Linked DNA regions of Homo sapiens. The protein of the gene in region 1 interacts with the protein of each later gene in a pairwise test. Each region holds a gene or a part of one and is shown in the gene's direction. Other genes may lie near its edges.

Region 1 (5,126 bases):
TAAGCTTATTCGAAAATAGGCCAGGTGCAGTGGCTCACACCTGTAATGCCATCACTTTGGGAGGTAGAGGCAGGTAGATCATCTGAGGTTGGGAGCTCGAGACCAGCCTGGCCAACGTGGCAAAACCCCACCTCTACTAAAAATACAAAAATTGGTCGGGCGCAGTGGCTCATGCCTGTAATCCCAGCACTTTGGGAAGCCGAGGCGGGCAGATCACTAGGTCAGGAGTTTGAGACCAGCCTGGCCAACATGGTGAAACCCCATCTCTGTTAAAAATACAAAAATTAGCTGGGCATGGTGGCGGATGCCTGTAATCCCAGCTACTCAGGAGGCTGAGGCAGAAGAATTCCTTGAGCCCGGGAGGCAGATGTTTCAGTGAGCCAAGATCGTGCCACTGCACTCCAGCCTGGGCAATAGAGCAAGACCCTGTCTCGGGGAAAAAAAAAAAAAAAAAAAAGCTGGGCATTGTGGTGCATGCCTGTAATCCCAGCTACTCAGGAGGCTGAGGCAGAGGATTGCTTGAACCCAGGAGGTGGAGGTTGCAGTGAGCCGAGATTGCACCACTGCACTCAAGCCTGGGTGACAGAGCAAGATTCAGTCTCAAAAAAAAAAAAAAAAAAAAAATGAAATGGGACACAGTATGGAAAGTGCTTGCTCTAGTGCTGGGCATGAGATGGGCGCTCAGGACGGTAAGAAATTATTGTTATTCCCTATGTGACCCAGGGACACTAGCATTAAATATACAAAGCCGTCCTTTCTATTCCTTTTCTTAGCGCCTGAGACTTGAAGAGGAAACTGGCAAGAAATTGAACCCTTCATTTCTTGACTTGGTCAGAACTCCTCAGATAAGGAAACATACTATGATATTGATGTACAACTGGTAAGGAATATTTTTCACTTTGAAATGCCTCCAAATTGTTTTAATCACAGTCATCCATAGTAAGGAAGGGAAGAAAACATGACCTCATCCCGGTATTAGCGCTGACGGTGGGCAGCAATGTGGGTTGTGTCTGGTAGGTTTTCCTGATCGTGTTTTTCTTGGGCAAATATTAAGATCGGTGTAGCCCCTAAGCACAGATCAAGGCAATGGCAACCTCGGCTTCACATTGGAATCACCTGGGAGCTTACAAAATACCAAAGCCAAAACCCCCAGAAATACTGATTTAATTGTTCTAGGGTAGGGCTTGGAAACCAATAGTTTTTTAATTCTCCAGGTGATTCAAATGCATAGCCCAACTAGAGAACTATTGGTATAACTTAATTGATGATGCATGTAGATCTCTATTGTAGTACAGAACTGGCAAAAAACAAACAAACAAAAAACAGGGTTGTGGGGGGATTGCCTTTTCTTTCCTTTTTTTCTTTTCTACCTGGAGAAAAAATAAATTTCTGAACAAGAATAATTCCAGTGGCTTCACAGCCCAGTGACTTGATCTTTATTGTGTTTGCTACCTACAGGCTGCTCTCAGAGCTTCAAGCCATGCTTTCTCTAGTGGGGAATGCATCTTTTCAGGGCACATTGGATCTCCACCCAGGCAAATGGAGATTTACAATCACTGACAAAAGCAAAGCTCATGAGGAATTACTTTAGCAACCTTTACAATAGTGCACAGGAGAGGCAGCTTTGAAATTTGGCCTCATTATCCTTCTTTCCTTTTCTGAGTAATCGTGACTTTTGTTGATTATCCTCATATTTTCCATTACATGTAATGACTATGTTTAGTTAATAAACTAGAAACATTGTCCAAATGTTGTTCGTAACAGGCCAGGAGAGAAGTCACCAAGAAGGGAGGCCGTACTCACTTGGTCTTCTGGTTTCCTAAAATTTGAATTAAGTAGTCAGTTCTTTCGATCCCAATTGCACTAGAATACCCCAAAGAGAGAAATAACTCACAACCACTAATAACTTGATATAGTTTTACTAAATAAATCATTCCATTGGCCAGGCACAGTGGCTCACACCTGGAATCCCAGCATTTCGGGAGGCTGAGGCAGGCAGATCACATGAAGCCAGGAGTTCAAGACCAGCCTGGTTAACATGGCAAAACCCCATGTCTACTAAAAGCACAAAAATTAGCAGGTGGTACACGTCTGTAATCCCAACTACTAGGGAGGCTGAGGCAGGGGAATAACTTGAAACTGAAAGGTAGAGTTTGCAGTGAGCCAAGATTGCACCACTGCATTCCAGCCTGGGCAACAGAGTGACTCTGTCTCAAAAAATAAATAAATAAAATAAATCATTCCATTAAGACATTCTTCTTGGCTTTCAATTTGTCCAGGAAACATTATCGTAATTTCTAATTAGTTCTAACTATTCCAATTTCTTCCCTTCTCCTGGTTTTTGGAAACTACCCAGCCACAGCCAGCCACTGAAGTAGATCAGAGATTATAAAAGCAGTGGGATGGGGGACTAGCAAGGAGATGGTCACAGGGAAAGGTGACCTACAATCCACATTATTTTTCCAGAAGCCTCTCTTTTTTGGTGCCCTGTGTTTGGTGCTTGACTTGACCTGAACTCTCCTCTTTGCTCAGGTTCACGAGCTCTGTGCTCTACCAGGGCCTCATCATGCACATGGGCCTTGCAGGTGACAATATCTACCTGGATTTCTTCTACTCTGCCCTGGTTGAATTCCCAGCTGCCTTCATGATCATCCTCACCATCGACCGCATCGGACGCCGTTACCCTTGGGCTGCATCAAATATGGTTGCAGGGGCAGCCTGTCTGGCCTCAGTTTTTATACCTGGTGGTAAGTTTCAGGTGAAGTTGGAGTCTTATCTCCAAGACCCTGGAGAAAGGGAGTGTCACGGCCCATTGATAGGAAAACCATGTAATTTGTCATCCAAATCAATTTGGAAAGACAAATTGGAGGGCAGTATCTGGGACCCTTCTGAGCAAATTCATATGGCCAGCCTCCCTTTAGGAAAAATTGTACCCAATTTTTCCTTGATGTGATGTAACAAGAGAGACTTTACAGCCCCATGCTACAGGCCATCAAGATGACCTGGAGCAGAGAGCATGGGCCTTGGGTAAAGCAGGCCCAGGTCAAGGTCTTACTCCAGCCCTTCCTGGGTGTTAACTGGGGACTCTCTTGACCTCCCTGCATCAACCTGCAGAATAAATGAGAAAAATGTAAGTAAATGCCATCCATAAATAACTATTCAGTTCCCTTTTTCCCTTTTAAAATGCTTCCTCAACGAAGGGGAACAAATACCTGGATAAGAGAATCCTTTTAGCAATATGGAGCTTCGTTTGAATCCTTTTGTTATTAGCAGTTGTTTAAATGTGCCCATATTTTGCTCTTTCTTTGACTTCTATAGACTAAAGTTGGCCCAGCTTTGGAAACTGGTATAACTCCGTTGTCATTAACAACTGAGGTCTAAAGTTAAGAGAACACAGAGGATTTTTAGGGCAGTGAAATTATTCCATATGATACTAAAATAGTGGATACAGGTCATTATGCATTTGTCCAAACCCACAGGAGGTGTACCACCAAGAGTGAACCCTAATGCCAGCTATAGATTTGGGGTGATTATCGTTGCCACTGAAGGTTCATCAAGTAACAAACATACCACTCTGTGGAGAATGTCGATGATGGGCAGTGGGGGGTGGAATGCATGTGTGGGGGCAGAGGTTATGTGGGAAATCTCTGTACCTTCCTCTCCATTTTGCTGTGAACTTAAAACTGCTCTAAAAAAAATATCTTTTTTAAAAAAGAGAGAATTAGCATTGTGTCTGAGGTTAAGATGAACAAACGTGAGAATCTGCTGACATTAACATGAGCCTATAGAAGAAGTCATTTTTCTTTCTTGTCCCATTCTGGGATGGGGAATTTGTCCTTACAGTCCCACTCTGGAGCACTGTCTGAAGATGAGGAATCATCTGTGTACGGATAAGTACTGTTCTTTTCCCTCTTAGATCTACAATGGCTAAAAATTATTATCTCATGCTTGGGAAGAATGGGGATCACAATGGCCTATGAGATAGTCTGCCTGGTCAATGCTGAGCTGTACCCCACATTCATTAGGTGAGTGCATTTTCCTTAGAATGACGAGGGTGGGTGAGACATTTGTTCATTGGCTGGAACCACCACAAGTGCAGACAAAGGATATCTTACCTTCAAAACACAGTGTAAGGGAAGGTGAGAACACGTAAAGGTCCAGCCAGGCCCAGCAGTTCACCTCTCACACTTACAGGCTGGGGTAAAATACAGAGGCCATGGTGAGAACAGAAAATTGAATTGCAAGACAGGGATTACCCAATGGCTACAGGGGAGATTGTTGTGGAACAGCACAAACAGGTCCATAGAAACAGCTTAGGGAAGCCAGGTGATGGAAGTAAAAAGAAACAATTGCTCCTCCCATCATTAAAAAAAAATTTAAGGTTTATACAAAACAAGAATGACAGAATATGAATGGAATTATGTATATATATATATATATAAAATATTGTGCATTGAAAATAACGTGAATGTTTTTTTAAACTCTTGAACATTTTATTTTTGGTGTTTTTTTTTTATTTCAATAGGTTTCTGGGAAACAGGTGGTATATGGTTGTATGAATAAGTTCTTCAGTGGTGATTTCTGAGATTTTGGTGCACCCGTCACCTGAGCAGTGTACACTATAGCTCTTGAACATTTTAATTATTTGAGGAAGTGTTTATTCAGGGGTGGATGGGAGATAACTACTGCACTGTGATAAGTTAACAAGTTAAATCAGTTTCCTGCATTCTAGGAATCTTGGCGTCCACATCTGTTCCTCAATGTGTGACATTGGTGGCATCATCACGCCATTCCTGGTCTACCGGCTCACTAACATCTGGCTTGAGCTCCCGCTGATGGTTTTCGGTAAGAAATCTTCACAGATGTCTTTAAGTGAAAACTTATTTTTCTAGAGACCTTCACTTCTCTTCTACTTCATTCAAAACAGGTGTCATGCCTATTAGTAACTACTAATTACTACTCATAGTAGTAATGATGTGTCTGTGGCTTGCGTTCTTCCTGGATGTGCCTAGTAATTAGTAATATTATTAGTATTAGTAATACTAATCAATAATACTAGTTCAGTATTCATAATATTATCATCACTACTAATACTCAAGTATGGGACTCCTGCCATAGAGGCAGAA
Region 2 (5,126 bases), on another chromosome or scaffold:
TAAAGAATAATAGAGGATTGGATCCACCGATCCCAGAGGGAACCAGCCCTCCAGCCTGCTCATTTGGCCTCCTCAGAATTGCTGTTGCCAAAGCCAGTCAGTCCCAGGGCCTCTTGCCACACCTGCAGTCCAAGTACCAGGCCCAGGAGCCACGTGCTGGCATCCCATGGCACTTGTAGGTCCAGAGTGGGGATGGGATGGACGGGTTTTCCTCTAGGTAGGCTTTGGCAAACCGTGATGAGATTGGATTACCTCTTGGCCTGTATCTGTGGCAGTCAGCCCCAAATCCATGGAAAATTCTACACAAATGGATAGGGAAGAAGAGAGAGAGAGAGGAGCAGATTGGTGTTTTAGATGCCCTTATGTGAAATGTGAAGCTTACACTGATGTTCTTGTGAAAAGACAAACTTGAAGATCTATCAATATTAAATGGGCTTTTACTTTTAGGAGACCAGTTACACTAGCTTCTTTATACAGGCTCAGAGCTTACCCAGAGATTTCATGCTCTTGCCTTTTATTTTAAACTTAGACATTTAATGAGCATAGTTGCCTGGCCCCCTGCACCCTGCCTGGCAACAGAAAGCAATGCTGACTGCTTCTTAGATTTAGTACTGAAGAACATTCTTCGAAAAAAGAAAAGGATTAAGTGTTATTTTTAGCTCTGTTGACTGGTAGGGACTTTGTCTATGAAAGATGTAACATAACATCCTAGGATGAAGCAGCAGCTGTACTTGAGTCTGAATTAGAACAGTGTTGTTCAGGTGGTTTTTTGAGCCATGTTGAGGTTTCTCTCTAAAAATAGCTGGTGACAGCATTCAGGTACAGGTTATGTGTTGTACTGAATGTATTGATAATTACTTGAAAGTAAAAGACTATTTGCCAAGCAAAAATTACAGTGCTGAGGAATGTACCCAATTTGAATACAACCGTTTTCACTATTTTATTCACTAAAGAAAAACCCTAAAACTTTGTTAAGATGTAGCAGTAGTGTTATTATTTAAAACAGGAAAAGTGTTCTTCTTGGCCCAATTGTTTGATGTTTAATGTCATAAATGACAGGGCAGAAGTGATAGTTCAAGTAAGAAGGATGTGATTGAGCTGACAGACGACAGCTTTGATAAGAATGTTCTGGACAGTGAAGATGTTTGGATGGTTGAGTTCTATGCTCCTTGGTGTGGACACTGCAAAAAGTAAGTGCCTTCTACTAAGTAGTCTGTTCATTCACAGTGTTTTCAGTACATTCATTAGCTTATTTTGAAAGAGCTGAAGTAGATAATAGATCACCACTAAGATCTCTTCCAGCAAAACTCTGACTCTAAGTGAATATTAAACATTGACATTAGCGCCAAGAGCTTCCACTCTCCTATTGCCAAAGATTAACAAGGGACTGGCTCATGTCTGGATTTAGGGGCAGTGGTGGAATGGGAAGCTCATGTGAAGGGTAGCATTGTATCTTTAGTAAAGCCACACACAAAATGTTTTCTAGGTGTGACATAATTGGGGATTGGGCAGAAATGCACAGATCAGTTAAAAAGTATAGGCTAGGCATGGTGGCTCACACCTGTAATCCTAGCTCTTTGGGAGGCCGAGGCAGGCGGATCACTTGAGGTCAGGACTTTGAGACCAGCCTGGGCAACATAGCAAAACCCCATGTCTACTAAAAATACAAAAAAATTGGCTGGGTGTGGTGGCGTGTGCCTGTAGTCCCAGCTACTTGGGAGGTTGAGGTGCAAGAATCTCTTGATTGTGGGAGGCAGAGGCTACAGTGAGCCAAGCTCACACCACTGCGCTCCATCCTGGATAATAGAAGGAGACTCTGTCTTAAAAAAAAAAAGAAAAGAAAAGAAAGGTGTTTGGGCTGCAAGTTAAAATGCAAGTATTTGGCCTGGTGAGGTGGATCACTTGAGGCCAGGAGTTTGAGACCAGCCTGGGCAACATGGGGAAACCCTATCTCTACTAAAAATGTAGAAATTAACAGTGGGTGGTGGCACACACCTGTAGTCCCAGCTATGTTGGAGGCTGAAATGAGATCACCTGAGCCCAGGAGATTGAGGCTGCAGGGAGCCATGATTGCACCACTGCACTCCAGCCTGGGCAACAGAGAGAGACTGTGTCTCAAAGAAACAAAACAAAACGAATATTTTTCTATAGCCTAGAGCCAGAGTGGGCTGCCGCAGCTTCAGAAGTAAAAGAGCAGACGAAAGGAAAAGTGAAACTGGCAGCTGTGGATGCTACAGTCAATCAGGTTCTGGCCTCCCGATACGGGGTGAGTATACTTATAAGGCTCATTTCATTGTGAAATACATGGTGTTTCGTTACTTCTTCCAATACTCCAGGCCTCCCTATGAGGTAGTAAAGGAGATGTTTAAACCATTTTGTAAGTGAAGAGATAAAGTCACTTTATTGTCATAACTAACAAGTCTGAAACTCAGGACTGTCAACTTTTCCCCCTAATGTCACACTGCTTCTGGTATATACTTAATGTGAGGTTTCAGCTTGCCCAGACTTATTCAAGTTGCTCATATGGCTGTTGTGAGTTGGTCCATTTGTTCTAGGGCAGGTACTTTGTGTTAATTATATACCAGGGCTTGAATATGATTGGCTAAACTTCACAGACTGTTAAAACTCCCTGATTGATAATTGACCTCTGTGAGTCATTCCTTTGAAATCTGTGCAGTCTGGAGAACAGTTTTGTTACATTAAATTACCTATAAGGCCAGAGTGGTGGCTCACACCTGTAATCCCAACACTTTGGGAGGCCAAGGATCACTTGAGGCCAGGATTTCAAAACCAGCCTGGCCAACATGGTGAAACCCCGTCTCTATTAAAAATACAAATATTAGCCGGGTGTGGTGGTGTGTGCCTGCAGTCCCAGCTACTCAGGAGGCTGAAGTAGGAGAATTGCTTGAACCCAGGAGGCAGAGGTTGCAGTGAGCTGAGATTGCACCTGTGCTCTCCAGCCTGGGCAACAGAGTGAGACTGCTTCAAAAAAAAAAAAAAAAAATTACCTATAAGGTGGTTTTAGAAACTGTAAAGATTGTGTTATTTTGCATTAAGTGTTAATTGGATTTTATCCTCTGACCTTTTTTTAATAGATTAGAGGATTTCCTACAATCAAGATATTTCAGAAAGGCGAGTCTCCTGTGGATTATGACGGTGGGCGGACAAGATCCGACATCGTGTCCCGGGCCCTTGATTTGTTTTCTGATAACGCCCCACCTCCTGAGCTGCTTGAGGTAAACCACTTCAACTGCTTGTAGTCCAGAAAGCTTTTTTAGCTGATGGTGAGGAATGTTAAAGCAGTGTGACACACTGTTCATTTTATGCCCTTAAAGATACTCTCTTTAAAGTGGTTTCTATACTTTGAAATGGAAAAAAAGTCTGATAAATTGCTTTTCATAACTTTTAGCATTAGAATAATTACACTGAACAGAAATACGAGCTTCTTAAAGATAGAGTGTATTCAATCACTCTTGCTTATCATTCTCAAAGTAATAGAACATTTATCAAGTACTAATCATGTAACAGGCACCGTTCTGGTGTCTTTGTATAGTTTTGTTTTGTTTTGTTTTGTTTTCATTTAATTCTCACATGAACACTGAGAGGTAGATACTGTTTTTAATCTCCATTTTATATATGGGGAAATTGAGGCACAGAGCCTCAAGTGTGTATAAACATATAAGACATATAATACATGTAAGTATAATCTATTTAAACAAGTAAGTGGCAGAGCCAGGCTGTGTCCAGGCATTGCGATTTCAGAGATGTTTGTATGTGTGCTAATCACCCCACCTCCACCACCACAGCTTCCACAGGCTTAAGAATCAGTAGCAGAAAAATCTCCTCTTAGAGAACATGCCTCCAGGTGTTTCCATACGAGGAAGTAGTCGTGGGAGAAATGTTTTCAATGAAAGTGACGGTGCGAAGGTCTTGTTTGCCAGCTTACCTTTAGGTGTTGTATCATGCAGCCTCCTGATTGTCCCTTGTCTTTTGGGTCCCACAGATTATCAACGAGGACATTGCCAAGAGGACGTGTGAGGAGCACCAGCTCTGTGTTGTGGCTGTGCTGCCCCATATCCTTGATACTGGTAAGACAGACGGAAATGATTTCCCTTAGCTGTTCTATGCTAGATGCTCTGAGAATACTTTCTAAATGGATTAATTTTATGGACTCCTTTATCTTTACCTTTAAAAAACTTTGTCTATTTAAATCAGGAGCTGCAGGCAGAAATTCTTATCTGGAAGTTCTTCTGAAGTTGGCAGACAAATACAAAAAGAAAATGTGGGGGTAAGTTACTGAGCTTACTGTCTGAGTGTCATCTGAACAGCTGATTATAGGCTTTCTTGAGAGTGGTTCCCCCGTGTTTTTGTAAGCTGTGTTCTATGTTTGCTCTGCTATATGTTTTTTTTTTTTTTCCCTCCTGCCTCAGCCTCCCAAGTAGCTGGGATTATAGGCGCCCGCCACCACACCCAGCTAATTTTTGTATTTTTAGTAGGGTCAGGGTTTCACCATGTTGTCTAGGCTGGTCTCAAAACTCCTGACCTCAAGTGATCCACCTGCCTCCACCTCCCAAAGTCCTGGGATTACAGGTGTAAGCCACCGCACCCGGCCTGCTCTGCTATATGTTTTTATTCAGGATGTGAAAACTTTATCATGGGAGGAAAAGAAGGAATGAAGGGCTGTCAGCACAGCATGCATTTTTCTCATAGGAATCATGTTTTACATGGTGATTGGAGTGCCAGGTTAGCAGGCAGACACATAAGGAGTAGTGCACCTGAATTCTACTGTGAACTTGAAGGCTGGGTGAGAAAGGGGAAATAGAATTGTTTCCTTCTCCTCTTCTGAGTTAAGGACTGGATCTAGGCACATTTTCAAAACAGTGTATCTCTTTCCTATTTTATCCTTTTTTTTTTTTTTTGAGACAGAGTCTCACTCTCTTGCCCAGGGTGGAGTGCAGTGGCACAATCTCGGCTTACTGCAACCTCCGCCTCCCGGGTTCAAAAGATCCTCCTGCCTTAGCCTCCTGCGTAGCTGGGACTACAGGCGCACGCCACCATGCCCGGCTAATTTTTGTGATTTTAGTAGAGATGGGGTTTGCACCATATTGGTCAGGCTGGTCTCGAAC
Region 3 (5,126 bases), on another chromosome or scaffold:
TGTTTGAGCACGCTCTCTGTGGAAAGTAGTTATTGGTGTGTTTGTCTTAACGTTTGGAAATAAATGGCCTTTTGAAAGGTAATTAGAAAGCTTTCTAGCAGATGTGAATAAAAATGTTGCTTTAGGTAAACCCTATTTCTGGGAAACCTGGCTTAAGTACTGGTAATCTTTATAAATAGTCTTTTGCATTTCACAAGGCAATGTAAGCCTTTTTCTTTTCTTTCTTTTTTTTTTTTAAAGTAGTGATTTTCACTCAGACCTTTGAATATAATTTTGTGATACCCTACCTTGTTTTAACCTGAATTGACTCTCCCTTAGCTAAGAGCCAGACAAGACTCCATCTTGGCTCCTTCACTTGCAGCCCCTTACCCACCCGCTTCCTCAAGGACTTAACTTGTGCAAGCTGACTCCCAGCACATCCAAGAATGCAATTAACTGATAAGATACTGTGGCAAGCTATATCCGCAGTTCCCAGGAATTCGCCCGGTTAATAGTACCCAGAGCCCCCGCGTTTGTGTCCGGTTGATAACACCCAAAGCCCCGCGTCTGTCACCTTGTGATAGATTTAAAGCCCCTGCACCTGGAACTGTTTACTTTCCTGTAACCATTTGTCCTTTTAACTTTTTGCCTACTTTGTTTTAACTAGACTCTCCCCCTCCCCTTTCTGAACAAAAGTATAAAAGAAAATCTAGCCCCTTCTTTAGGGCCAAGAGAATTTTGAGCACTAGCCGTCTCTGGGTCGCCGGCTAATAAAGGACTCCTGAATTCGTCTCAGAGTGTGGTTTCTCTATAAGTTGCTCGGTTACAACAATTTGGTTGTCCAAAACTTTGATTTTCTTGAACTTTTTTAAGAGAGTTTGTGTGGCTAGGGAGCAGGACCACTGTAAAACGAGGCACCTTCCCTGGTTTGTCCTAACCCTTTCTCTCAGCCAGCCATCTGGATGGAATGGAGTCAATTATCAGAAAGTGGAGAGTTAAGAATTAGCCAGGTGTGGTGGCTCACACCTGTAGTCCCAGCTTGAGTCCCAGGAGTTCGAAGCTGCAGTGAGCTGTGATTGCACCCCTACACTCCAGCCTGGGCAACCAGAGTGAGCACTGTCTCTTAACAGAGGCCAAGTGCGGTGGCTCACGCTTGTAATCCCAGCATTTTGGGAGGCTGAGGCGGGCAGATCATTGGAGGTCAGGAGTTCGAGACCAGCCTGACCAACCATGGCCAGTGTGGTAAAACCCCATCTCTACTAAAAGTACAAATTAGGTGCGGTGGTGTAGGCCTATAATCCCAGCTACTTGGGAGACTGAGGCAGGAGAATTGCTTGAACCTGGGAGGCATAGGTTGCAGTGAGCCAAGATTGTGCCACTGCACTCTAGCCTGGGTGACAGTGAGACTCTGTCTCAAAAAAAGAAAAAAAAAGAGAAAGAGGCCTGGTGCAGAGGCTCACGCCTGTAAGCACTTTGGGCGGCCGAGGTAGGCGGATCACTTGAGGTCAGGAGTTCTAGACCAGCCTGGGCAACATGGCAAGATCCCGTCTCTAATAAAAATACAAAAATTATTCGGTCGTGGTGGCATGCGCCTGTAATCCCAGCTACTCAGGAGGCTGAGGCATGAGAATTGCTTGAACTCTGGAGGTGGAAAGTCCAGCCTGGGTGACAGCAAGACTCTTATCTAAAAAAAAAAAAAAAAAAGTTGGGTGTGGGTGGCTCACGCCTATAATCCCAGCACTTTGGGAGGCCGAGGTGAGTGGATCTTGAGGTCAGGAGTTCAAAACCAGTCTGGCCAAGGTGGTGAAACCTCATCTCTACTAAAACTACAAAATTAGTCGGGCGCAGTGGCAGGCACCTGTAATCTCAGCTGCTGGGGAGGCAGAGGCAGGAGAATCCCTTGAACCCAGGTGGCAGAGGTTGCCGTGAGCCGAGATCACGCCACTGCACTCCAGCTTGGGCAACAGAGTGAGACTCTGTCTCAAAAAAAAAAAAAAAAAAGAAAAGTAAAATAAAGAATAATAATAATAAAGCGGAGAGTTTTCAGACAAGGCAGATATTTAAATAAGAGTCCAGGCCGGGTACGGTGGCTCATACCTGTAATCCCAGCACTTTCGGAGACTGAGGCGGGTGGATCACCTGAGGTCAGGAGTTTTGAGACCAGCCTGGCTAACATGATGAAACCCTGTTTCTATTAAAAATATAAAAAATTAGTGGGGCGTGGTGGCACGTGCCTGTAACCCCAGCTACTTGGGAAGCTGAGAGAAGAATCATTTGAACCCAGGAGGCGGAGGTTGCAGTGAGCTGAGATCGTGCGATTGCACTCCAGCTTGGGCAACAAAAGCGAAACTCTGTCTCAAAATAAATAAATAAATAAAACAAAAAGTAAGAGTCCACAATAAGGGCTCATTTAAGTAATTTCCTGTTTTGCAAGATAGGTAAAGTGGATCTTTTTTATATGTTTTCTTATTGTTGATTCCTACCAATACCGTTTACTAAGGCTCCAAGTGTCATGTACTTTACTAGATACTTTGCATAAGGTTAATTTTTACATATTCCTGGTGAGGTAGATTTTCTTATTCCCATTTTACAGATGAGAAAACTGAGGCTTAGAGAACTTTGGTGATTTACTTGAGAGCTTAAAATCCCATGGTTGGTTTATGATCTGAGTGATGTTTTAATCTGTTCTGTTTCCACTGTTTTACTTTTAAAAGTTGTGCATGTGTTTTGGTTTTGTCTTGGAATAATAAAAGTTTTCCTTCAGTCCTGAAGTAAAGTATATTGACTTCAGGTATTTATTATTATTATTACTATTTTTAAAATTCTGGGCCACGCTAACTTTGGGAGACTTCAGGTATTTATTCTAGAGATCATTTTTTGTTTGTCTCTTTTTTTTTCTTTTATTGAGTTGTGATTTATGTACTACAATTTTTTTTTTTTGAGACCGAGTCTCGCTCTGACGCCCAGGCTGGAGTGCAGTGGCGTGATCTCGGCTCACCACAACCTCCGCCTCCTGGGTTCAAGCGATTCTCCTGCTCAGCCTCCTGAGTAGCTGGGATTACAGGTGAGCTCCGGGCTAATTTTTGTATTTTTAGTAGAGATGGGGTTTCCCCATGTTGTTCAGGCTGGTCTTGAACTCCTGACCTTGTGATCCATCCGCCTTGGCCTCCCAAAGTGCTGAGATTACAGGCGTGAGCCACTGTGCCCGGCCTTTTTTTTTTTTTTTTTTTTTGAGGAGTTTTGCTCTTATTGCTCAGGCCGAAGTGCAGTGGTGCAATCTCAGCTCACTGCAACCTTCGCCTCCTGGGTTCAAGTGATTCCTGCCTCAGCCTCCCAAGTAGCTGGTATTACAGGCACCCACCACTGCGCTTGGCTAATTTTTGTTTTCCTAGTAGAGACAGGGTTTCATTATGTTGGCCAGGCTGGTCTTGAACTCCTGACCTCAGGTGATCCGCCCGCCTCGGCCTCCCACAGTGCTGGGATTACAGGCGTGAGCCACCGTGCCCGGCAAAATTCACAGTTAAATGTAGTTTATTGAGTTGACAAATGCCTCTGTAATGTAACCCACATTCCTTGAGAACATTTCCAAACTTTCAGCAAGTTCCCTTGTGCTGTTTCCCAGTTAATCCCTGCCATATCCCCAATCACTGTAGGTAAGTTTTGCTTATTCATGTAAAATGGAATTATGCTGTGTGTACCCTTCTGTATCTAGCTTCTTTCACTTAGCATAACTTCTTTTAGATTCATTCATCTTCTTGGAGTGTTGCTTTTTATTGCTGAGTATTGTTTTTATTGTATTAATATACCACAATTTGTTTATCCATTTGCCAGATATTGGACATTTGGGTTATTTCCAATTTGGGGCTATTATAAATAAAGCTGCACTGAACATTCTTGCACAAGACTTTGGGGACTTTTTTTTTTTTTTTTGAGACAGAGTTTAGCTCTTGTTGCCCAGGCTGGAGTGCAATGGTGCGATCTCGGCTCACCGCAACCTCCGACTCCCAGGTTCAAGCAATTCTCCTGCCTCAGCCTCCCTAGTAGCTGGGATTACAGGCATGCGCCACCACACCTGTTTAATTTTGTATTTTTAGTAGATAACAGGATTTCTCCATGTTGGTCAGGCTGGTCTCGAACTCCCGACCTCTGGTGATCTGCTCCCCTCAGCCTCCCAAAGTGCTGGGATTACAGGCCTGAGCCACCATGCCCAGCTTTTTTTTTTTTTTTTTTTTTTTTTTTGTGACAAGATCTCACTCTATTGCCCAGGCTGGAGTGGCTCAATGCAGCCTTGTCTTCCCTGGCTCAAGCAGCCTTGCCATTTCAGCCTCCCAAGTAGCTGGGACTACAGGCTCACACCACCACTCCACACCACTCCAGGCTTTTGTTTTTGAGACAGAGCCTCACTCTGTTGTCCAGGCTGGAGTGCAGTGGCGCAGTCTCAGCTCACTGCAACGTCTGCCTCCCGGGTTCAAGCGATTCTCCTGCCTCAGTCTCCTGAGTAGCTGGTACTACAGGCATGCGCCACCATCCCTGGCTAATTTTTTATTTTTGGTAGAGACGGGGTTTCACCATGTTGGTCAGGCTTGTCTCGAACTCCTGACCTCCTGATCCACCTGCTTCGGCCTCCCAAAGTGCTGGGATTACGGGCGTGAGCCACCGTCCCCAGCCTTTTTTTTTTTCTGAGACGGAGTCTCGCTCTTGTTGCCCAGGCTGGAGTGCAGTGGTGCAGTCTCGGCTCACTGCAGCCTCCGCCTCTTGGGTTCAAGTGATTCTCCTGCTTCAGCCTCCAAAGTAGCTGGGATTGCAGGCATGCACCACCATACCTGGCTAATTTTGTATTTTATTTATTTATTTATTTATTTATTTATTTATTTATTTATTTTTTAGTAGAGACGGGGTTTCTCCATGTTAGTCAAGCTGGTCTCAAACTCCCGACCTCAGGTGATCTGCCCGCCTTGGCCTCCCAAAGTGTTGGGATTACAAGTGTGAGCCACCGCGCCCGGCCTTTTTTTTTTTTTTTTTTTAAATATCCTTGTTCAGTTATTTTTTAGGAACTTAGACACAGCAAATACATACCAAATGCCTCTGTGCCAGACACTGTTCACAGGGTAGTTAGCCATATATCAGATTATAAAGGATAAAAGAGG

The links. Proteins that work in one complex are often made in the same cells at the same time.
Region 2: the proteins of SLC22A2 (region 1) and PDIA6 interact in a protein complementation assay, tested with the Homo sapiens proteins (one large-scale study listed by BioGRID).
Region 3: the proteins of SLC22A2 (region 1) and LAPTM4B interact in a protein complementation assay, tested with the Homo sapiens proteins (one large-scale study listed by BioGRID).

The regions. Positions count from the first base shown.
Region 1 is NC_000006.12:160,241,193-160,246,318, reverse strand, and holds part of SLC22A2 (solute carrier family 22 member 2), read left to right. Parts: intron 1-773; coding exon 774-880; intron 881-2,532; coding exon 2,533-2,747; intron 2,748-3,916; coding exon 3,917-4,025; intron 4,026-4,732; coding exon 4,733-4,845; intron 4,846-5,126. UniProt on the Homo sapiens protein: Electrogenic voltage-dependent transporter that mediates the transport of a variety of organic cations such as endogenous bioactive amines, cationic drugs and xenobiotics. Functions as a Na(+)-independent, bidirectional uniporter.
Region 2 is NC_000002.12:10,787,859-10,792,984, reverse strand, and holds part of PDIA6 (protein disulfide-isomerase A6 isoform d precursor), read left to right. Parts: intron 1-1,059; coding exon 1,060-1,190; intron 1,191-2,151; coding exon 2,152-2,266; intron 2,267-3,095; coding exon 3,096-3,236; intron 3,237-4,003; coding exon 4,004-4,088; intron 4,089-4,215; coding exon 4,216-4,288; intron 4,289-5,126. UniProt on the Homo sapiens protein: May function as a chaperone that inhibits aggregation of misfolded proteins. Negatively regulates the unfolded protein response (UPR) through binding to UPR sensors such as ERN1, which in turn inactivates ERN1 signaling.
Region 3 is NC_000008.11:97,778,089-97,783,214, forward strand, and holds part of LAPTM4B (lysosomal-associated transmembrane protein 4B), read left to right. Parts: intron 1-5,126. UniProt on the Homo sapiens protein: Required for optimal lysosomal function. Blocks EGF-stimulated EGFR intraluminal sorting and degradation.